4 linked regions of the Homo sapiens genome follow. The protein of the gene in region 4 purifies or fractionates together with the protein of the main gene of each other region. This does not show direct contact. Each region holds a gene or a part of one and is shown on either strand. Other genes may lie near its edges. The genes, in order: HMGA2, MYO1B, ZDHHC6 and ROR2.

Region 1 (5,728 bases), on a different chromosome or scaffold from region 4:
CGTTAATTCATGGGACCTGTTGGATAGTAATGCCAGATCAGGGAGATACTATTTGGTGAGAAATGTTGTGGCTTATTTTATCTCTCATCTACCTGTCTGTCTATCTGCCTATCCATCTATCTGTTTGTCAACTATCATGTAAAGCTATTTGTTTTTACCAGGCAGATTGAAGAGAAAAAGAGGAAAGTTTCATTTGGCAGTGTAGACAGTCAATATCACTGTACCAAGTACCCCCACCGGCTGCTAACTCAGATAACAAAAGTAAAATGTGGAACAAGGTATCCTGGTTCAAGTTACCTGTATTTGTGTGTTAATATAGCCATGGATGATTCTTATACATGAAACAATATGTACTAAGTTTTCTTTATCCTAAAAAGCAGGAACACGTTTTTATAGATGTATGTGATATGTGTGTGTATTGGTGTGTTGTTGTGTATGAAGATTGGACTAGGGCTGACAAAAACGGAAAAACTAATTGCTTTATAAATAATGTTAACAACTGTGATATCAGAAAAATCTTCTGTGAAGTAAAGCAATGAAATAAACTCTCAAGATAGAAATGTATTCATGTTAAGTGTGGGATTATGGTTAATAAAGTACATTTTTAATTAATCATTATTTCTAGGCACATATAGTTTTAATCACTGGGACAAACTGATGATTTCTGCCTGCTTTTTTTTCCTCTGCTTTAGGTGAACTGATTGACAGGTGATTGTTTCAGGCAAGGAACATTAAATTAAACATGTAGAAGTGTGCAAATATTTGTTATTTTGAATTAGAATGCTTGTGTATTCTTTTTCACATTTATACTTGCTTTTGACTACCAATATAGGTAGAAGAGCTTTGTAAATTGTAAAGTAATATGTCAATATTAATTTTTGCAACTTTAGTTGTGACATGGAAAGAATCTTGATCATCTTAAGAAATATTAATTTTCTAAAATACTAACTTATGTAGTTACAGAATGTGGGGATAATGTTTTTAATATGGACAGAAATAAAAGCAAAATAGCTTTTGAAAAAGCATTTTCATGTATTTCAGAAGAGATCACTACAGGGGGTGTCTTTTAGGGCGAGGGGTTGCATAGATACCTCTTTACATCATGCAATGAAGAAGAATCTACTCAGAAATGTGGAAAAAGATTAACCTTAGAGGAGACGAAGTTTGTTAAAAAAAACAAAAAAAAAAAAACCGATACGTCATCTGCAAAGCAGAACATTCTTACTTCAAATGTGTCCCTTGGTGCAGTACTTATAAACAATGTCAGGTAGAAAACTATAATGACTTCCTTTTTCATTTGCAGAAAGCAGAAGCCACTGGAGAAAAACGGCCAAGAGGCAGACCTAGGAAATGGGTGAGTAATAAGATATAATTTTTCTTCTTTTTTTTAAAGAAAAATTTCTGTTGTATTAAATGAGAAAAGTTTTATTTCGTCGATTACATGAATTTCCAACTTCTGGTTTGATGAATCTTTGAAAGGGTTAAGTCAAGAGACAAATTATCATCACTTCCTACCACTAGGCTCCAGGTGTTTACGTAGAACACTTTTCTTTCCTGAAGGTGGACTCATTTTTCTATCTCTTATCAACATCAAAAGAGGCTCCACTCTTCCTTCAAATAGGGTAACAATGAGATGATTTGTTCAGTAGATTGAGTAACTAAAGTTAAAGGGTATTATGAAGCCTTGGAAGTTGATTACAAATGGTGTTAAAATTCATACACAATGTGTATGTGATAACTTTTTAACGTTTTTCTTTTTTCTTTTTCTTTCTTTTTCTTTTTCTTTTTTTTTTTTGGTTTTCTCCATGGCTTTTGTTTGGACACATCTCATTTTCTAGATGGTTTGTGTTTTCTTTTTCACATGGCTTTGTTAGGAAGCAAGGGTTTATTTTGAGTTTTTCTTGCTTCCCTTAGTAGTCATTCTCCACATGCAAACATTAGAGATAGCTGTATCCATACAAGTGCACCTGATCCTATAGGCACACAGATCCTGTATCTTTTGAGGCCAGAAATTCAGTGGTCACTGAAGAGCTTTGCTAATTTTACTGCTTGAACTTTGTTCCCTTGTTTGCTGTGTTACCCATGTTCTTCTGGTCTGTCTTTCCCACTGACGGAGAAAAGAAGTCCTAAAAATGAATGAAATCGTTTCTCAAGAAGGATGAGGGCATCCTTTATACCCAGTGTTGCATATGATGGGTTCTTTGGCTTTGCTTTTTCCTCTTCCTCAATTCTTTCTTCATGCTTCAAATTTTAAAAAGATTTTTTTTTTCTGTTATGCTGGATTATATGTTCCTGTTTGCCATTCCTTTCTCCTCTAGAGTTCTGCATCACTTTCTATTTATACTTTGGTATTGCCTTTCTTTTAATTTATTCATCTTATATTTTTCCTCTGCTCAACATGTGTTGGGATTAGATTTCTTAGCATAAGGAAATGGGATGATCTTTAGATGAAAAACATCTCAGTGTTAAAATGTGACCTTAAAGTAAGGATATTTCATTCAACCTTCTGTTCATTAAATTAGTTCTCTCCAAACCTACTTATCAAGTGGTGATCATCTAGCGTGCTTGATTACCTTTAAAGTTAGGGAACTTGCTACCTCTCAAGGCTGCCTCTTTCTTCTAGGAAAGCTCTGCACATTAGAAAATTGTTCCATCTGACTACCTGTAACTTCCGTCCACTGTCTCTAGGTCATCCTTCTGGGAATATATAGAGTAATTGTTTTCACTTTCACTCATGATAGCCCTGCAAACGGTTGAGGGCAATTAACACATACTGTTTGTATGTATCTGTGTTTGTATGTAACACATACTCCAGTTTTCTCATTTTTTCCCCATAAAGGAACATTCTTGTTATTCTTTTCTGAACATGTTTGTTCGTTAATCTTTTGAAAGATGTCACCTAGAACTAAATATCATATTTCAAGTGTGGGTTCCATAAACAGTGGGTTTATCACCTTCCTTGTTGTACATATGGTTCCAGTTATCGATTGCTGCATAGTTAACCACTCTAAAACTTAATAGTGTAAAAAAACTATTTTATTATGCATATGGATTCTTTGGGTCAAGGATAGGCAGGGTAGAGCAGAAAGTCTTGTCTCTGCTCCATGATGTCTGGGGCCTCCACTGGGAAGACTCAAGCATCAGGGGATGACTTTAATACTTGGGATCCAGAATCTGGAGCTGTTTCACTTACAAATCTGGTGCTTTATCAAGATTGGCTGGAAATCTGGGCGGATCTGGGAGTGCGTGCACTGGATCACCCATACATGGCCTCCCCAGGATAATCAGGCTTCTTACATGCACTCAGGACTACCTCTGGGAATTTTCTGGTAACTGAGGAGGAAGCTGCAAGGCCTTTTTTGCCTTAGACTCGGAAGTCAAAAACTGCTGCTTCCATTATACTCTAATGAGCACATTGTTGACTAAGTTGATACTGGCATACATATCAAATAGAGATCTGCTGTTTTCTAAGCATCAGAACTCTGAAAGGACATCCCATACCATTGAACTAATTAATAAGAAAGACGTGTATAATCTTTCTAATAGGCAACATAATAGAAAATAGATGAGTTCTTTGAAGCCATGGGATTAATGTGGCTAAAATGAAATTAAATTGCAAGCGAATACAGTGGCAGTTAACCAGCAAACTAACCTCCATCATATGGGGCCTCTTAACTCTCTCAGCCTTTCATCTCCTCTGCCCTTGGGCTGTCCTATAATGGTCACCAATTCACCTCCATAGGTTAGAGTCCTGTCTTCTCCGAACCTTCCTATGGCTCCACATCTGGCCAGCTAGTTAATTACAGCCTGCCCTAGTACTTCGAAGTCATTCAGTTTACATCTACCTTTCTTTACAGTTTTCTTTCTCACCACACATCCTTAAACAGTTGATGATTCAGCCAAGCAGGAGTAAACTATAGAGCAATTAAAGGATATATATGTTTTTTTTCTTAACGGATTCTTGCTAATTTAGGGGGGATCTGGATTTCAGGCATCAGATCTTCCTGCTGGGTAAGAAGCACATGTGAGGCCCCCACCACAGAAATCCTTGCCTTTCTGAGAATAGCTGGGCCATTTTCTTTGACTCTCCTGGTTTCTAATTTTTACTGGCTGTGAGAATGGAAAATATTATGTGGTGAATTGTTACAAGTCCCTGATTTGGTCCCCAAAGAAGAGTTGTTCTACTGAGAAGAGGAAATAAAAGGAAATTGTATATTTTTTCTAGACAGTGTGTTTCCTCTTTGCTTGTATATCTTCTGTTGGGTAGAGTATGCAGCCAGTCACAGCAAGGCATTCCGTTCAATGGCATTCTTTGCTGGAAAGCTTGTGCTGAAGAAATAAATCATTGCGTTTTCCATAGGAAATGGGCTTATACTTTATAGCAAGTTCAATTCTTTCCAACAGTGTCATTCACCGATTTCCTTGAGTTAGAGATATATTTTTGAACCGACTGGATTCATTAGGTATATGGGTTAGAAGCCAAATTGTTCCCCTTTTATTCTTGTGGGATATTTTGCTTTGTTTTAAAGTTCTTGTGCTTCTAAAACTTGTTCCAGTAGATATTATAGATTCATGTAAGAGGCCTGGGAAAAGATACCTACCGAGGAATCCTCTGATCTGATGTAATTGGGATCCATATGGGTAGGTGTGGGAGAGAAACTTGCATCAGTCTTGCTTTCAGAGGGGATGAAGCATTGGCCAATTCAGTGATCTAACGAGTGTGTTAACTAGATTTGCTTAAGAACACTTCTATTGTTTACTTTAATTCCCTTCATCTTTTTTTTTTTTTATCCCCCTAGTTTGAACTGGATTTCAGATCTATTGTTTTTATGAGGTGGTCTGATTTTCATGTGTGTGCGTGTGTGTGTAGAAGAGGCTAGAGGTAAATTGGGTCTCTTTTTTTCCTGGCTTTTTATAGTTAAGAGCTCAGGCTCTGGATTCAGATGGCTTGGGTTCAAATTCTGGTCCGTCACTTAGCTAACTGGAGTCTTAAGAAAATCACATGACCTTTAAAGGTCCAGTTTCCTCATCTGCAAAAGGTATATTTCTCATAGAGTTGTAAGGATTAAATGAGATAATGCATGCAAAGGGCTTAATAAAGAGCATGGCACATAGGTAGTGCTCAGTAAATGTTGGAAATTATGATTAATTTCACTGTACACTTTCATTTTGACATTAGCTGTAGGCTAAACCTTAATTACTTACAGCCACCAGTAGTTACACATAGAATGAAGTAACAGAGTTATATGTCAGACTAACCAAGTACCCTTGACAGTATCATTATGTCCTCAATATATTTATGCTGAATATTAATCAAGTTTAAGAACTGCTTATAAATAATACTAAAGAACATTTTAATTCTCTTTGCTATTAAGGAGGAGTTTTACATTGCAGCTTAGAAGCCTTTCTTCCAATAGCAGAGATTTGGTGTCATGTGGTGTTCATCAGTTTGAAAAGAAGTATTTCTGCTGTTTGCCTCAAGATGTACATACAGAGATGTGCTGATTCTCAGAACTTCTATAGAATTCCATTAGCCAGTCCTGCCAATTGAAATTTGGCATTTAATTATTTGCATTTTTCTATTCTTGCCTAGGAAAGGAGCTCGTCACATACCTAGTTTAGTGATGGAAAGTATTTGGAGAAAGTTTTAGAGAGTGGGGCTCAGGCTCAAGAATACAATGAAGTAATAAAGTTGTTAACCTCATGTATAAAATCCTCCATCCAGATG
Region 2 (5,728 bases), on a different chromosome or scaffold from region 4:
ACTGCAAAATCCTAACATATCAAAGAGAGTCTGACTTACAAAGGGGCAGAAATGGGTGTAAATTTATTTTAGAAAGACTTTTAGGAAGAGTTGAAACAGAATAGACTAGAAAATTCTTAATTAGAAAAGAATATAATTTCCTGAGCAATCTAGACATGCAAAGAAGTATATAAGCAGGTAAACAATCTATTGAAAGGTAACCAATTAAGTATAATCAACACAGTAACTCAGATTTCTCCAAAACACTTACATAGATAGATACAATAAATCTGGGGATGCCCCAACCTGTATGCAAATAACTAACTTCTATATTCAGAACCCTAATGAGAAATTGAAGAAGCAAATTTCAAATTTATACCAGTCTCAGATGTCACCACATCAAAGAGGCCTCCCTGACTCTTTTTTTTTTTCTGAGACGGAGTCTCACACTGTCACCCAGGCTGGATTGCGGTGGCACGATCTCGGCTCATTGCAATCTCCGCCTCCCGGGTTCAAGAGATTCTCCTGCCTCAGCCTCTTGAGTAGCTGGGATTACATGCGCCCGCCACCACGCCCAGCTAATTTTTTTTGTATTTTAAGTAGAGACGGTTTCACCATGTTGGCCAGGCTGGTCTCGAACTCCTGACCTCGTGATTCGCCTGCCTCGGCCTCCCAAAGTGCTGGGATTACAGGCGTGAGCCACTGCGCCTGGCCTACTCTCTGACTCTTAACCCTTTTTTTCCTCCATAAACACTTGTTAGCCAAAATCTTATCAACTATTTCATCATTTTATTTGTACATACTGGTCTCTTCCACTAGGATGTCAGGTACATGAGGTTGGAGACTTGGTCAGTGTCATTCACTGCCCATTTATCATGTGGAACAACTACTAGACACATACCTGGTACTTAATAAGTAGTTGTATTAATGAATGAGATCGAGAGCTGAACTAAAACAAAAAAGCTGAAAGAGAAAAAGGGTTTTCAAACAATACATGAACGTACTCATCGGAAATCTCAATATTGAGCTTCTGTTTGGTTTGGCTGAGAGTTGTGCGATAGAGCTTGGTGGCCATTTCAATCAGGTGATCACTGCTGAAGAGAAAGTCTCCTTTACTAGCTGCTTCTGAGCCCTGCAAGGACAAACCAAGAGTCGGTCATAATTAAAGATACCTTAGAAGGTCAATATTTACAGGCTTGGCTAAAAACATACTTACAGTCTCTTTAAAACATCAGATCCTGGAATCCATTCTCCCAAGGTAAACAATAATGACAAAAGCAGTGTTTCTTCCAACTTGCTCAGAGCACTTTAGTAAGGTTACCTAATCCCCTTCTACCTAAAGTCGGTGGATGCAGCAGAAGCACCATGTGCATCACTTGGAGCTTGCTAGAAAAGCAGAATCTCAGGCCCTACCACAGCCCCAGTGAATATGAAACCACAACGCAACCTCCAGGTATGGGTTTACACATTCAGGTTTGAGGAGCATGGACCTATCCCGCAACTCTTCTGAAGGACTTGATTAAAAAACTTTTCAGTGATTTGGTTAAAACCCTAATGACAACACTTCCAACAAATATCCTAGGGCAGTGGCTCTCAGCCTTAGCTGTGCAAGGGAATCATCTGGGTTTATTCAAAAAAAAAACAAAACAAAACAAAAAAAAAAACATGATGCTTGTGCCCCCTCTGAGAAATTCTAATTTGATTTCATAGGGGTATGGCCTGGGCATCAGAATTTTTAAAGTTCCCAAGCTGTTTACATGTGTCACTGAGGTTGAGAATCACTGTCCTAGTATTTGATATGCCCCCTTTAAGTTAAGATCCAAAGTAGGGTAAACAGGCTAAGGGAAGCTTTGGGGATTTTTCTAAGTTTAGGGTTGGCCAGAGAGTAACATTATTAGCTAGACACATGTCCCTACATATGATCAATATTTGTTAACTTTTGTTTATTCAGTGACTATGTGTTATGTGACAGGCCCTGTTCCTCCAGTGTCTCATTTAATCCTTAATCCTTACAACAATGCTATGAAGTAGGCACTCTTACTATCCCCATTTTAAAGATGAGAAAAAGTAGGTAGGCACACACAAATTAAATGCCTTGGCCAAAATTATCATAAAGTGAGTGAGACCAACTCCAGAACCTACATGTAACCACTGCATCCAAGCCAGGAGTCCTGGTTAAGCTAAAGGCACAGAACACTAAAAATTATTTAGGTTAAAATTAACTGGCGGTTATTTTATTTTAGTTGTATCCTTTAATGTAAACCCCCAGATTAGAGATGAACATTAAGACATTTACTAAGTTGATACATAGAAGAAAAAACAGGAGAAAACAAAATTTAAAACATCTTGATATTTCTATGTATTAGTCTCAAAAAGTAAAGTAAACTGGCCAATAAAAGTGATTAACTTTATTCAATTACTGAAAAACTGAGTCGGAGATTTTACATAGGGGTGAATATCCAAAATTTGCAAATTAGCAAGGCAGATATATAAACTGCGATAGGATTATCAGATATGGAAATTTTTTAAATCAATGGCTGAGAGATTAAGCACAGAAATCTTCTGTTGAACCTTTACCTCTTTGAGGTGGACGGCGAAGAAGCCATCATTTTGTGAGCTCATTGATACCTTGGTCACATCCACCAATGGAACCTCTGACTTGATTTGTCCAGACTTTTGGTCAGCAAGAAGGAGATTATTGTTTGTTAAGAGGAAAATCCGAGATGTACTCTAAATCAAAATAAAAAATAGTATAAAACCAATGATCACAAATACTCAAAAATGGTCCATGAGTTTAAGGCATTATTTGCAAAAATTCCAATATCCTTCAACAAACATACCTATGTAAACCAAGAACGCAGTAAAGAACATAAATAATATGTTTTATTTCATAAAAATGTCAGAGAACAAGCAAAATTCCACCTAAGCTTAAAGGTAAGGGGAAATAGCCGCCTTCATAGTTAACTCTACTGAGAACATGAAATGCAAATTTTTACATTCAGAAAACAGGGTGACTATCCCAACTAATAGGTACTTCTTATCAGTCTTCAAGGTTAGCATTTTTACCTTCCCATTAGCACGGTTAATTTTGTTCACGACTTCAGCAATGATGATCTTTTCTTCAATGGCATCTTTGAGTTTCTTATACTTGGGGTTCTTGTTGATTTCCAGGTAAGCCCCTTGGAATGGTTGCCCAACACTAAAGGAAAAAAATTCCTGCACATTAGAAATAGTTTCAAATGAAAGTACCACTAAAAAAAGGAAACAGGTCAGTTGATTCTAAGGAGTAGCTGACAACTTCATAAAAATTGATTTCAATTTATTTTATATATTACACTTACATCTGTCCTAAATATAAGTTGGAAATGAAACCTTAAACCTATTTCAAATACACTTTTGGGGTGATCATGGCATTTGGTGGGCAGGACTTTGATAATAATCTTATCACACGGAACAATCAAGACAGAAATCACTCATAAGAACAACAGCTAAGACTCAAGTACATGGCCTCATGTGAAGGAAAAGGCAATTTCTTCTAATCTGTTAATATAAAGTTAACAGCTGCTCACAAAGGATTTACTAACGCCTTCAAACAATATGTGGCAGTGAAAAGAGCTGAAATCATTACCATCACCTGCTCTAAAGAAAAATTTCATTTCTTGCAGAGAATAAGAAAATCAATAGGCCTTCTGGGAAAGAACAGATCCAGGGCAATCACTTTAGAAGAAAACTATAGAACACTTAATATTAACATGTAACTGTGGTTCTAAGTAGGCAATACAGATGGTCTCTGACTTGGTTTGACTTAGGGTTTTTCAGCTTTACAGTGGTGCTCATAAACCATTCTGTTTTTCACTTTCAGTACAGTGGTCAATAAACCACATGAGATATCCAACACTTTATTATAAAACAGGCTTTGTGTTAGATGATTTTGCCCAACTGTAGGCTAATGTAAGTGTGCTGAGCATGTTTAAGGTAGGCTAGGCTAAGTGATTGTGTTCAGTAGGTTAGGTGTATTAAATGCATTTTCAACTTATGATATTTTCAACTTCATATGACATATGACAACTTCATAAAAATTGACTTCAATTTATTTTATACATTACGCTTGCATCTGTCCTAAATATAAGTTGGAAATGAAACCTTAAACCTATTTCAAATATATTTTTGAGGTGATCATGGCATTTGGTGGGCAGGACTTTGATAATAATCTCATCACATGGAACAATCAAGATAGAAATCACTCATAACCCATATGATGGATTATCTGTGTGTAACTGCATCATAAGTTAAGCAGCATCTGTATATGAAAGGAGAATCAAGCCTCTTCTCCTAGAATATGCCTCTAAATGGACAGAAGTAACCAAAGCAAACATTCAGAATCAGGGCAATTTTTTTTTTCCCAAACAAACTAATTTTTGTAAAAGGTTAACTGTACACTTATCACTAAGATATCAATTTCCCTAAAGACTTGTCGGGGGACTCTTTCAGGACAGGTTCATCAAAGGCACCAAGGAAAAACTGCTGCTTCAAGGAATCTATAAGCTTCATTTTGAGCTACAAAGTTCTGGCAATTTGCAAATACAAATTTAAATGCTTATGTTGTGGGTGGAGGATAAGGGAAGAAAAATCCACGTAGGTGGTCAGCGTTTCACAGCTCTCAGGATATAAAAGGCCAACTCCCATAAGAGCTGCCACTTTGCAGGGTGGTGGGAGGCTAAATTATTCCACCTCTCTCACTGCTGTGGGGTGAGTGTGCCACTATCCCTGAAAACTGATAAGACTACCCAAAAAGGACTTGGCTTGAAGTTAACTTTTTTTGGTTCCTATTCAACTGTGTTTTAAATTATAAAAATGCTAACAGGCTTTTAAATTGTTTCCTCAAAGATGTATTTTCCAGCCTGTAGTTTCTGAAGAGTCATCCACAGGAAATGTTCATTAAGAAGGTTATTCCCTAATTTAAAAATGTATAAAAAAAAAGCTGAATAAAATTAGTTGCTGAAGCAAGCATACAGACAAATTCTCCTGTTTGAATATGCTTTATATAACAGGCACTTTGGACAACTTTGGATTTAGACACTGTGTTTGACTTAAGGGAGTATGTATCACCTCAAGTAGCCACATCAGCTAACCAATGAAGTTGTACAATTTAAAATATTTAAACCCAGTGAGTCTGGCAATGTATATTCCTTTAATCCTTTAAAAGGAAGATATTTTAAATGTGTATAAAGTCACAGAGAATATAAACATAATTTACGTAATAAATGTGAATATACTCAGCATATAATACATTCTTTCTTTGGCCATTCATTGGAAGAAGCTTAAAGTTGTTACAGATTTGGCTTGAAATTGTACAATCTACTTTTTTATAAACACCAGATGAAAATGGGATTAGATTGCTGGGAGGAAGTGATGAATGCAGGAGATGTAAGACTATTGGGATAAACAGTCTTTACCAAGGACTTCACTTGCTGAACTTGGGATTGGTGTTCCTTCTTTTTCTGAGTCCACGGTGTCTAAAATAAAGGAACTGAACGTGCTGTACAGGCCACAGAAGTCATATCCGTTGAGTTAGCAGACCAAAGGGCACCACAGACCAGTGCTCAAGCAACACTCAAAAAGTACTGTCCTGGCTCGCTCTTTCATTTACCTTACAAATAAGTTTCTGACCTTGCTTGCTATGGCAGGAAGACTGGAATGGTGATTAAAGTATATTGCCAACAGAAATTTGGCTAGTCTTTGAAAACTA
Region 3 (5,728 bases), on a different chromosome or scaffold from region 4:
ATTTTCTTTTTTATAAACACAGCTTCAGAGTCTTCAAAATGGACTGAATTTCAAAGAAAAGAGTTCTAGGCTATTTACAAAGAAAAACTGGTAAATATAAGAGAATTTATAAAATGACTAAGACATGTCTTTGCCTAACAGAAACACTCAATGAAGTTAGGATTCTATCAATATTGTGTGTTAAAAGGTGATGAAGGGGTGTGGTAGATGCTATGGGAAAAGGGAACAAAGGAAACAAAAAGTACTTAGCCAAGTCTAGGGAGTATCCAGGAAGGGTCCTTGGGAGAAACAATACCTTAACTAAGTCTTGAGAAGCAAGAAATCAGGCAAAAAGAGAGGGAAGAGCATTCTAGGCAGAGGGAACAACATGTGCAAGGATACAGAAGCATAAGATGTACAAACTATGAGTAATTTAGTATCAAGTGTGAGACAGGGTAGAGAAGGGTAGGAAATTAGGCTGGAGAAGTAGATAAAAAGAAGTCCGCCAGGTGCAGTGGCTCACGCCTGTAATCCCAGCACTTTGGGAGGCCAAGGCGGGTGGATTACTTGAGGTGAGGAGTTTGAGACCAGCCTGGCCAACATGGTGAAAGCCTGTCTCTACTAAAAATACAAAACTTAGCTGGGCATGGTGGCATACACCTTGTAATCCCAGCTACTTGGGAGGCTAAGGCAGGAGAATCACTTGAACCCAGGAAGTGGAGGTTGCAGCGAGCCAAGATTGTGCCACTGCACTCCAGCCTGGGCAACAGAGCGAGACTCCGTCGCCAGAAAACAAAAAAAGAAGTCATAAAAGGTCTTACTTATGTAGAAGCTAAGAAGCTCAGACTTCAACCTGTACATCAGTGGTTCTCAAAGCATGCTTTATAGATCACTTTGAGTATTCAGGACTTTTTCTTGCTGGTCAGCAAGGCCAAGCTATTTTCATAATAATACTGAAATGTTATTTGTCTTTTTGTTGCATTGACATTTGCAATGGTGAATAAAACTGTTGGCATCTTAGCAAAAACCAAGGCAGTGGCACCAAACTGTGTTGGTAGTCATTATGAGCAATTCCATGTAAGAATGTCCTTGATGAAGCAGTAAAAATTGTTTTTAAATATTAAATCTCAACTCTCAAGGAGATGTCCTTTATTTTTAACAGTCTGTGTGACAAAATGAGAAGTATACATAAAGCGTGCCCAAGTAGAATGATCATCTCAAGGAAAATAGTTGTTAAGCTGTAAGCTAACAAAAGCTGTAGAGCCAGCTTTTTTAATGTAACACTATTCTTATTTGAAAGAATGAGTAATATAGCAAACTAAGGTTATTCAGACTTCAGGACTTGGTGAACATTTTCTCAAAAACGAACAGTCAGGCAGTCACTTCAAGGGAAATGACTGACAGTATGGGTTAATAGTAAAAAATTAAGGCTTTCAAATGTATACTAGAATTACAAAAAAAAAAACCTTGTATCTACCACTGTGAGCCTGACAGCTTTCCAATACTTAAGGATTTTTTCTCATAAAAATGATATATTGATATACGTGAATGCAATTTTGGGATATTGTATAATGAAAGGTGTTTAACGTTTGCAAAATCTACATAACACAGTAAACTAGTATTTGCCAAATGACCGATGCCTGATGTTACATAAAACCACATACTGGTAAAAGATTAATTCAAAGAGCAAGATAGACTGATGAGTTTTAAAATAAAAAGGTATAAAAATCTTATTGATAAGAAATATCACTTGTCAAGTTTTCAATGTAATACGGAAGAACATCCACTATTATCATGTAAAAGGCCTATTAAAATATTCTATCCTTTTCTACCTACTTATCTGTGTGAGGCTAGATCTTCACATACTTCAATCGAAGCAACATATCTCAACAGACTGAATGCAGAAGTGAGAATCCAACCATCTTCTCTTAAGTCAAAGATACTAAAGAGATTTGTAAAGATATAAAACGATGCTATTCTTCTCCCTATTTTGTAATTTGGAAATTGTGAATATTCCCCTGTGGCAACAATCAGCTTGGTCTGCCAGGCAATTCTTTGGTATACAGGCTTGCTCCCCTTCATGGACGTTATCTGCCCAGACCCTGCAGGTATTTGGGTTTCAACCCCTGCCACAGGAATGGTGAGGCTCTGAGAAGTTTTAAACACAGAGCAGGGTAGTCAGATTTGTGTTTCATGCTAGAATCACAATGGACAGTATGAAGTATTGGACATTGTGAGGTCTGTGACAAGCAAAATGTTAGGAGCTTCATTGAATGTCTAAAACACTGAGAAAAACCTGATGGCAGTTTGGTAGGGTGGAAGCTCCTTTCCAAATGGGCTGCTTTCTCCTCTAGTCTAAGAGACAACAAACAGATGGTTTGACGTGTGGCTTAGGCCTCTGCGACCACTCAGGGTGTATGAGAAGCACCTTTCTGTGGGAGTTACAGAATGAACAAAAATGTTTCCTATATTCACCTTTTATGTGGCATGCAAATGACTTACGGTAGCCATTTGGCAGCCATGTTTTCACTTTTAGGCACTTTTCGTTAATCCGGTCTAATAACAGACTTTATTAATATTCAGGACTTTACCAGTCCTTTATTAATATACTTTTTTAATATTGAAGAAACAATTATTAAAATTTACCTTCTCTTCAATCCATGACTCAATAGAAGTTTTGTTTCTGAGAATTATTTTCATCTGGAAATTAAATGATAGTAAAATTTAATAATGCGACCTTGGTTCCTTTAAGATTATCATATTCATAATTCTCTGAGATAGCTTTTATTACTCCATTCCATAGACAAAGATACCAAGGATAACAGAGGTTAAGTACCACAATTACCATGTCATCCGTCTGACTCCAAAGTCCTTGTTCTTAACTACTGCACCACGGTACCTCTCCGTAACAATGATTACACCCATCCATAATCAAATCTGAATCTAGTATGTTAATCAAACTTTATGTCATAAGTACTATTTTCAGAGCAAGGTTTAATAAAACATTGATATAATCCATTTAATCAGTGCTTACTTATAATTTGCTATTAAAATCTTTTATCACTATTTTTAACTAACTTTAAATTTACGATTAATCTATTTATGAGAAGTAACAGTGACTCATTTCAGTCAACCTCAATATTTCACTTGCCTTAAAAATAATGAATGTATTCAGTCTTTATTCTATTATTTGATTTTCCTAGATATGACTGATTCCACATATATAGGCTTTTATATTATAGGATCTTAGTTTATTTCTAATATGATTCTAAATTAGAGGCATTGGGGAAAATTTTTCAAAGAATTTGGTCCCAGGCTAGTAGACGATAATAAAGTATAAACAAAACCAGATTATTTTAAAACCAAGAGTTCCCTTAAAGTCTGGCTGTGCCTTCAGAGAGACAGTGTAGTATGTTAGAAACAGCCTTGGTGGAGGCTGCAATAAGCCGAGATCGTGCCATTGCACTCCAGCCTGGGCCAACAGAGCCAGGCTCTGTCACAAACAAACAAACAAACAAACAACAATAAAAAAATAAACAGCCTTGGCCCAGGAGTCCTCATCATATTCCAAGGGCCTAGCATAATACCTGGCCCACAGTAGGCCTTCAATGAATGAATGAATGAATTACGTGAATGCAATAAGTCATAAGAATGGTTTTTGGGCCGGGCACAGTGGCTCACACCTGTAATCCCAGCACTTTGGGAGGCTGAGGTGGGTGGATCACAAGGTCAGGAGTTCAAGACCAGCCTGGCCAAGATGGTGAAACCCCGTCTCCACTAAAAACACAAAAATTAACCGGGTGTGGTGGCAGGTACCTGTAATCCCAGCTACTTGGCAGGCTGAGGCAGAGAACTGCTTAAACCCGGAAGGCGGAGGTTGCAGTGAGCTGAGTTCACGCCATTGTTCTCTAGCCTGGGTGACAGAGTGAGACTCCGTCTAAAAAAAAAAAAAAAAAAAAAAAAAAAAAAAAAAAAAAAAAGAATGAAAAAGAATGGTTTTTGGTCCCTTCAGAGCCAGGTCCTCCTCCTCTGTGTTCTCATAGCACTGTGCACATAAATCTATGATGTACATATGGCCCTGTATTAGTTAACTGTTTAATATTAACTGTCAGTTCCTAAGGGCAGCTACCTCTTCATTATCATTTATGCAGCCTTAGAAATTAGCAAAGTGATTCATCAGAGTAGGCTTTAAATAGCATCTTTATCATAGGGCTGTTATGGAGATTAAATGAGCTAATACATGTAAAGTGCCTAAAACAGTGCCTTACACATAATAAGTGCTCAATAAATGTTAGCTATATTATGATTACTATTATTAAATATATACTATTATAAAATAACATTAGTGTTTACCAAGTACATGAATGGGTGACATTGGGTAAGTCACTTAACCTTTTTGAGAATCAATGAATTAATCATCTGTCGGGAAGGGAAAATGTTTACCAAGTACATGAATGGGTGACATTGGGTAAGTCACTTAACCTTTTTGAGAATCAATGAATTAATCACGTGTTGGGAAGGGAAAACAGTAAGACTCCTCTATTGGGGTGGATGTGAAGAGCAAGAGAGACTGTACAGGTGAGAAGAGCTCTCTCAATTCTGAAGTGCTCCAGAACTTACCTAACTTGAAGTTAGCATTTTAAAAACTAAATCAATACCTAGAAATTCTGGCAAAATTAAATCAAAATTATCTGACGAATACAAAGGAGATTAGTTACCTAAATGAAATAAGCAAAAATAATTTCCATTTCATACTGGACACTTAAATACAGGCTTTGTCTCTTTCTTGTGCAATCAGTCCCAACAACTTGACACTTTTGACTTGAGGTAATTGAGATGCTTACCTGGATAAAAAACAACATCCCAACAGCTATGGTTGTTCCTAAAGCTAATCCCAAGGCAAACAAGGTGGTAGCAAATGCAGCTAATCCAAATGGAACAATTGGAAGAGGATCTCTCCGGGCTGCACTCATGTCGATCTTCACTGTGTTCCACCCAAAGGAGAGCTATCGCAGCAACAATAGCACACGCACAAAATGTTTGGTTATGGTAACTGGTCAGACTCTACTGTGACACGTAAAACAACTTGATCAAAGAGATAACAACGTGGCCCTGTGGCCAACGCAAACACAGCTATTTTTATTTTATTTTATTTATTTATTATTTATTTATTTGAGACGGAGTCTCACTCTGTCGCCCAGGCTGGAGTGCAGTGGCACGATCTCGACTCACTGCAACCTCCACCTCCCAGGTTCAAGCAATTCTCCTGCCTCAGCCTCCCGAGTAGCTGGGACTACAGGCATGTGCCATCACACCCGGCTTATTTTTTATATTTTTAGTAGAGACAGGTGTCACCAGATTGGCCAGGCTGGTCTTGAACTCCTGACCTTGTGACCCACACCGCCTCAGCCTCCCAAAGTGCTAGGATTACAGGCGTGAGCCACTGAGCTGGGCCAGCTATTTTTAATTAATATAGTAATGAGCTCGGACCGATGTGCAGGATATCATTCTTAGTTTTCTCAAATGTTACTTTTTGTTGTTGTTGTTTCCTCAGAAAGTGTCAAGGAGACCTTACCAACATTAACATACATAAACAACACTAGACACTAATCTAAACCAGAACTATGTCTTTTCTCTTCTCTTGCTATTCTACATCGCAGTATTCTTCCACAGTGACAAGTGCTGCCTAGGATTCAGTTGTTTCTTCCCTCATGTTTTACAAATGGTGATGAAGAACTGATAAAATGCA
Region 4 (5,728 bases):
TAACAACACATCTTCTCCGTAAGGCACATCACAGCTCCCTGCACTTGGGACACCAGATGGCACTTCAGCGCCACGCCTGGGAGCCATTTACAACAGCAGAATCACCAACAGAAAGCACACAAATAGGAAAAACGTGACACTAAGTAGACAGAAAGGATATGTGCTCACAGTATGAGGACTAGAACAAGAAGGCAGTGTAGTTTGGTTCAGTCTCAGCTGGAAACATGTGTCAGGGAGCTCAGGTTTTTCTCCACTCTGTGCATGTCCAAGAATGACCATGAAAATACCACGAGTGTTGATTTGGGGGACACGAAGTTTAGTGAATAAGCAAATTTGCAAATATGGAATCTGAAAATAATGAGGATAGGCTGGATACACACAGGCAATGCAATGGCTTTTAGAACGACAAAATGATGTTCAACCTCACTATTTACTGGTGAAATGTAATGTAAAATTACTATTTGACACCTAAGATGCTGGCAACATTTTAAGTTCTGATAATACCATGTGCTAGAAAACATGAGGAAATAATAACTCATGTGTTGCAGGTGAGGCTATGAATGACTTGGCCATCATAGAGGGCAATCTGGCCATTCCTGGGAGAGGTGGGAGATGCACACCCGTAATCCTGCTTCCTGATCTCTGTCCCTGGAGGACTTTCACCCATAGGGACAAAGAGACTTGGGATGCACAGTCACTATAAGAGGGTCCCTATCAGTGAAAAGAACTAACCTTCACTCGGCAGTCAATGCATGATTCAAGTGGAAACTGACTCACAGAATGGAATACTGTATATTAGTTAAAATGAATTTAACTATGTATTAACATGGACTTTCAGACTGGAAAGGTCTCCACATCAACCTCCCAAAAAAAGTCTAGTTATGCATCATTTACAAGAGACCTACATAAAACAGAACACAAAAAGGTGAAAGACTAAAGAGTGGGACAGGAATCATAAAAACGGTTCCTGGCAAATGCAAATTTAAAAAGCATGTGGAACTCTATTATTGTTAGGCAAAACTGAATTCAAGGCAAAAAGCACTAAAAGGGACTGTAAAAAGAAACCAAAAAACCCCACAAAAACCTATATAACCTTAAAATACACACAAAATATTAAAAATAGAGAACTAATAGAAACTAGCAAATCCAGATTGAGTGTGGGTGACTTTCACAAATCTTCAGGTATCTGGTACTCATGTGGATAAAAAATATATAGATATTTTTAATAACATACTTAATACTCAATCTCACAGATGAGTCAAGAAATGTGCAGATACATCAAAGCACACGTATTTTTGAAACAACAGGCAAGATTCACAAAAATGGACCGTATCTAACTGGTTACAAAGAAAAATCTCAATAAATTATCAAGAATAAAACATAAACAGCCCATATTCACTAATAATAATGCAACAAAAATCAGAAAACAGTATCAAACAACAGAAGCCTAAATGCGTGGTGGAAGCAGGGAGATGGTATTCAGAGGAAACTTTACAGCTTTAAATACATTTATTTGAAAATTTAAAAATGACTAGTAAAAATTGCTTTTTCAAGAGGCTGGAATGATATAAAAAATCACTTGAATCACTGCATACACCGGAATAGCTACACTTAAAAAGGCTGACCACACCAATGTTGGGAAATATGTGGAGTCATCACAAGTCTCCCACACTGTGGGTGGAGGTAAAAAGAGTTCAGGAGAAGGCCCAGGAATGTCTTATAAAATTAAGCACACACATGCCCTATAATGCAGCAATTCTACGCCTAGTTAACACTAACAGAAATGAAAATGCATGTCCACAAAAAGTATAGAGTATTCCTATACAAGGAACTTTATTCATAGTAGTCAAGCCTGGAATCTGCTTAGGTGTCCTTCAACAGGAGAATGGATAAATCAACGCGTATGTTCATACCATAAAATGCTATTCAGCAATAAACAGCTGTAACCTACTGATACATGTACAACACAGATGAATCTCAAAAGCACTATGCTAAAAGGACGCCAGGCTTAAGTGGCTACATCCTGAAGGATTTCATTTCTGTGATGTTTAATAACAGGAAAAACTAGTCCATTACTTAAAAAATCAGAATAGTGGGTGCCTGGGGTAGAAGGGAGTTGACTAGGAAGTTGCACGACAGAGCCTGCAAGCGTGACAGAGATTCTGTATCTGGATAGGGTGTTTCGATTGCAGAGATTTATGCATTTGTCAGACCTTATAGTGCTATACTTAAGATGTGTGCATTTCACTGGTATGCAAATTTTAACTGAAGAAGGAGGAGCAAGAATCATAAACAGATACTGAACTCTCATTAATGATATATATGCTGAAGTATTTCAGGGTAAATGTACAAGTATCTGCAACTCAGTGAAATGAATGAAAAATCAGATGGATTGATGGACAGATGGAGGCTGGATGGAACGATAAGTGATAAAGTTAGCACAGTAAAATGTAAATGCTAGCATCTAGCTGGTGAGTATACAGGAGCCCACTATAAAATTCTTTCAACCGTATGTTTGAAATTTTTCATTATAAAATGTTAAGAAAAAGAAAACACCTCAAAACACAAAGGAAAGTAGTCCTTGATAAGAAAATTCAATTTAGATATTAATTCTCACCAAACTGACCTAAAAATTCATTGTAATTCCAATCAAACTACCATCAGAATCTTTCAAGGAAATCATGACATTCTTTAACAAGACATAACATGAAAAACAAATTATTAATTTGTAAAAGTTTTAATTTCTATATGATCAAGAAATAAGACATAAAGAATTATCAAAATTCATTAAGAAACAATGTAAAGGAAAAATGAGCGAAGAATATGAAGTGGCAATTGACAAAGAGGAGACATGAGTGCCAAGCAATGTGTGTCCACATGCTCAGCCTCACTAGTAACCAGGGAAATGGAGAACAAAGCAGGTCATTTATTCATTTTTCATCCTTCAGAGTGGCAGAAGTTAACAAGTTTGGAAGTCATCTTATGGAAGATAAGGAGAAATGGGTCCTTTGACGTTGTCGGGAAAGTAACCTACGAATGACCATTTGGCAGTATCAGTTTTAAAAAGGGGATGCCTGTGCCCCTTTAGTTTTTCCTCTTCAGAATCTCTCCTAGAGAAACCCAGCCACAGGTCTCAGGGCCAGGGAAGGGAGACGCGGTGGCACGAGTGGCTGGGATGAGGCTTCCCTGATGGGAATGCCTGTCACAATGGAACAGTCACATGCTCTGCACATGAGTCCAGAAACAGGGAAAGAGAGCATCTGGAAACCTCAAATACACTGAGATGGAAAGATTTCTGTGAATACTGTTAACTAAACATGTCAAGTATAGCATCATTTATGTAAAAAAGTATATAAAACTGATAAGAGGTATTTCTTTTTAAAAATATTTTTGTGTTTATTGTCAAATAGCACTCCAGAAATTTCTCATCAATAGTGTATAGGTAAGCATATTTCTTCATTGCCTCAATAATACTGAGTAATTTATGTGCTTTTAGACCTTTTTTCAAGTTGATTGTTTTGTATTTCCTTAGGTAGATGTATGTATGTACTGAGTGCCTACAAACTCCCTGGATGATTTACCTTTATGACAAGGGAGGCAGGAGGCCTGGAAGGATGGGAGGTCAGGCGGGACTTTCCGAAACTGCCCCAGTCATTTACATCAATGTGTGGATTAAATCCATAACTTAAAGTGAGAAGAAAGTCAATGTAAAAATATTGTGAAATAATTTATATAAATATATATATTTACAATTTGTATATAAATATATGAATGTTTAATATTTGTATAATTATAGCTCTGTAATTATATGTTATGTATTTACAATATATTATATAGTTACATAATATATTTATGTAACTATATATAAATGAACTATAAAAGTTTTATTTATAAAATACATAAATATAGGCCGGGTGCAGTGGCTCATGCCTGTAATCTCAGCACTTTGGGAGGCCAAGGTGGACGGATCACTTGAGGTCAGGAGTTCGAGACCAGTCTGGCCAACATGGTGAAACCCCGTCTCTACTAAAAATACAAACATTAGCCGGGCATGGTGGTGCGCATCTGTAATTTCAGCTACTCGAGGCTCAGACAGGAGAATTGCCTGAACTTGGCAGGCAGAGGTTGCAGTGAGCGGAGACTGCACCACTGCACTCCAGCCTGGGTGACAGGGCGAGACTCTGTCTCAAAAAATAAAATAACTAAAATAAAAGACATAAATATAAAATAAGAGAGAACAATAGTTCAACTTTTGAAATGACTTATATGCCTTTTTCCAAAGCCCCATAATTGTGCTCATGATGCAATTTCTTCTTTCCTTACTCTGTGTCTGAAGGACTATTAAGGAAAAATGCTCCATCACTATTGCTCAGCACAGAATCTTCCCAAATATCTTCCCTCTAGGTCAGGTGTGGTGGCACACACCTACAATCCCAGTGATTTGGGAGGGCGAGACAGGAGGATTGCTCGAGGCAAGAGTTTGTCACCAGTCTGGACAGCATAGTGAGACCCCATCTCTACAAAAAATAAGAAAAAATTATCCGGGTGTGTGGTGGCACGCACCTGCAGTCCCAGCTACTTGGGAGGCTGAAGGGGGAGGATGGCCTGAGCCCAGGAGTACAAGACTACAGTAAGCTGTGATCGTGCCACTGCACTCCAGTCTGGGTGAAAAGCCAGGCCTGTCTATTTGGGGGGGGAAAAAAATCTGCCCTCTGCAAGCAAGCTGCTGATGTCTGCTGAGACAGGTCGCTGCCCTGCCCAGCCTCCCAACGTGGTGTTGCAGCACATCATGGGTGGGTAATGGGTACAAGGCCCAGGGAAACAGAAATCAGCCAACACTGCACACTTTACCAACCATATAGTGTTCATGCTATTGTTCAGAACATCTCAAAGTGAAGCACTGCTCTCCAATATGTCTGAGGAGGAAATGCAGGAAACCCGGACAGTCACTGCTCATCTCAAACACCGGCAATGGAATGAGCACTCCTCTGGGTACACGATGGGAGAGTGTGGGCAGTTCAGAGGGGACTCTCCCAAGACAGCCTGGCCACAGTGGAATAACCTCGTACTGGGAAACCAGAGGCCTGAGTTCAAAGCCACTGCTGTCAGCAGCTCGTGAAGGAGTGTGAGCCTGGCTGTGAGCCTCGGTCTCCTCATCTGCAAGGTGGGGTTGAGACTCCCACCCACTGCCACGGGGTGGCCCAAGGCTCAGGGGCACACATTTATTAACTGCAGCTGGTAGTGCTGGGATTTCAGAGTGAATTACGTCCCTGTTTCCCAATGTCCTAATGAGCCGGTATCCTTCCTGGTGCCCAGGCAACCTGGCCTGTATATTTATACTCCTCTCAGTAGCCCTGTGTAAGGTCACAATCACAGAAAGAAATTAACCATTTTTGTTTTTCTGACTTTTTTTCTGTACAAGAAACATGAAAAATGTAAATGTTTCCCAACCCTAAGCAAGCACGTGGCCACCCCTGTGTGAAGCCCAGCCAACTTCTAGCAAATTCGGCAAAGACATGAGCTGGCAGGATTTAAACCCCGGATTCCTACATAACAAAAACCCTCAGAGCAGCAGAACACGGCTTGGGGAAAACAGATACTTACTGAAAGTTATGATTTGGGCTGTGCGTTGGACCTAAAAAGAGGAAACAAAAAGACAAGTTATTAATACTCCATGATTTGGAATACAACCTTCTTCAAATCAGGCCAGTGGCAAACAGGCTGAAGC

Evidence for each region.
Region 1: the proteins of ROR2 (region 4) and HMGA2 purify together in Homo sapiens (affinity purification with mass spectrometry; one large-scale study listed by BioGRID and IntAct). This does not show direct contact.
Region 2: the proteins of ROR2 (region 4) and MYO1B purify together in Homo sapiens (affinity purification with mass spectrometry; one large-scale study listed by BioGRID and IntAct). This does not show direct contact.
Region 3: the proteins of ROR2 (region 4) and ZDHHC6 purify together in Homo sapiens (affinity purification with mass spectrometry; one large-scale study listed by BioGRID and IntAct). This does not show direct contact.

Annotation. Positions count from the first base shown.
Region 1 is NC_000012.12:65,837,216-65,842,943, forward strand, and holds part of HMGA2 (high mobility group protein HMGI-C), read left to right. Parts: intron 1-1,303; coding exon 1,304-1,354; intron 1,355-5,375; coding exon of another isoform or gene 5,376-5,399; exon of another isoform or gene 5,400-5,728.
Region 2 is NC_000002.12:191,411,498-191,417,225, reverse strand, and holds part of MYO1B (unconventional myosin-Ib), read right to left. Parts: intron 3,179-5,728; coding exon 3,046-3,178; intron 2,710-3,045; coding exon 2,557-2,709; intron 1,112-2,556; coding exon 984-1,111; intron 1-983. UniProt on the Homo sapiens protein: Motor protein that may participate in process critical to neuronal development and function such as cell migration, neurite outgrowth and vesicular transport.
Region 3 is NC_000010.11:112,435,711-112,441,438, forward strand, and holds part of ZDHHC6 (palmitoyltransferase ZDHHC6), read right to left. Parts: intron 4,986-5,728; coding exon 4,824-4,985; intron 3,943-4,823; exon of another isoform or gene 3,796-3,942; intron 2,680-3,795; coding exon 2,626-2,679; intron 1-2,625. UniProt on the Homo sapiens protein: Endoplasmic reticulum palmitoyl acyltransferase that mediates palmitoylation of proteins such as AMFR, CALX, ITPR1 and TFRC.
Region 4 is NC_000009.12:91,750,467-91,756,194, forward strand, and holds part of ROR2 (tyrosine-protein kinase transmembrane receptor ROR2 isoform 1 precursor), read right to left. Parts: intron 5,636-5,728; coding exon 5,605-5,635; intron 1-5,604. UniProt on the Homo sapiens protein: Tyrosine-protein kinase receptor which may be involved in the early formation of the chondrocytes. It seems to be required for cartilage and growth plate development. Phosphorylates YWHAB, leading to induction of osteogenesis and bone formation.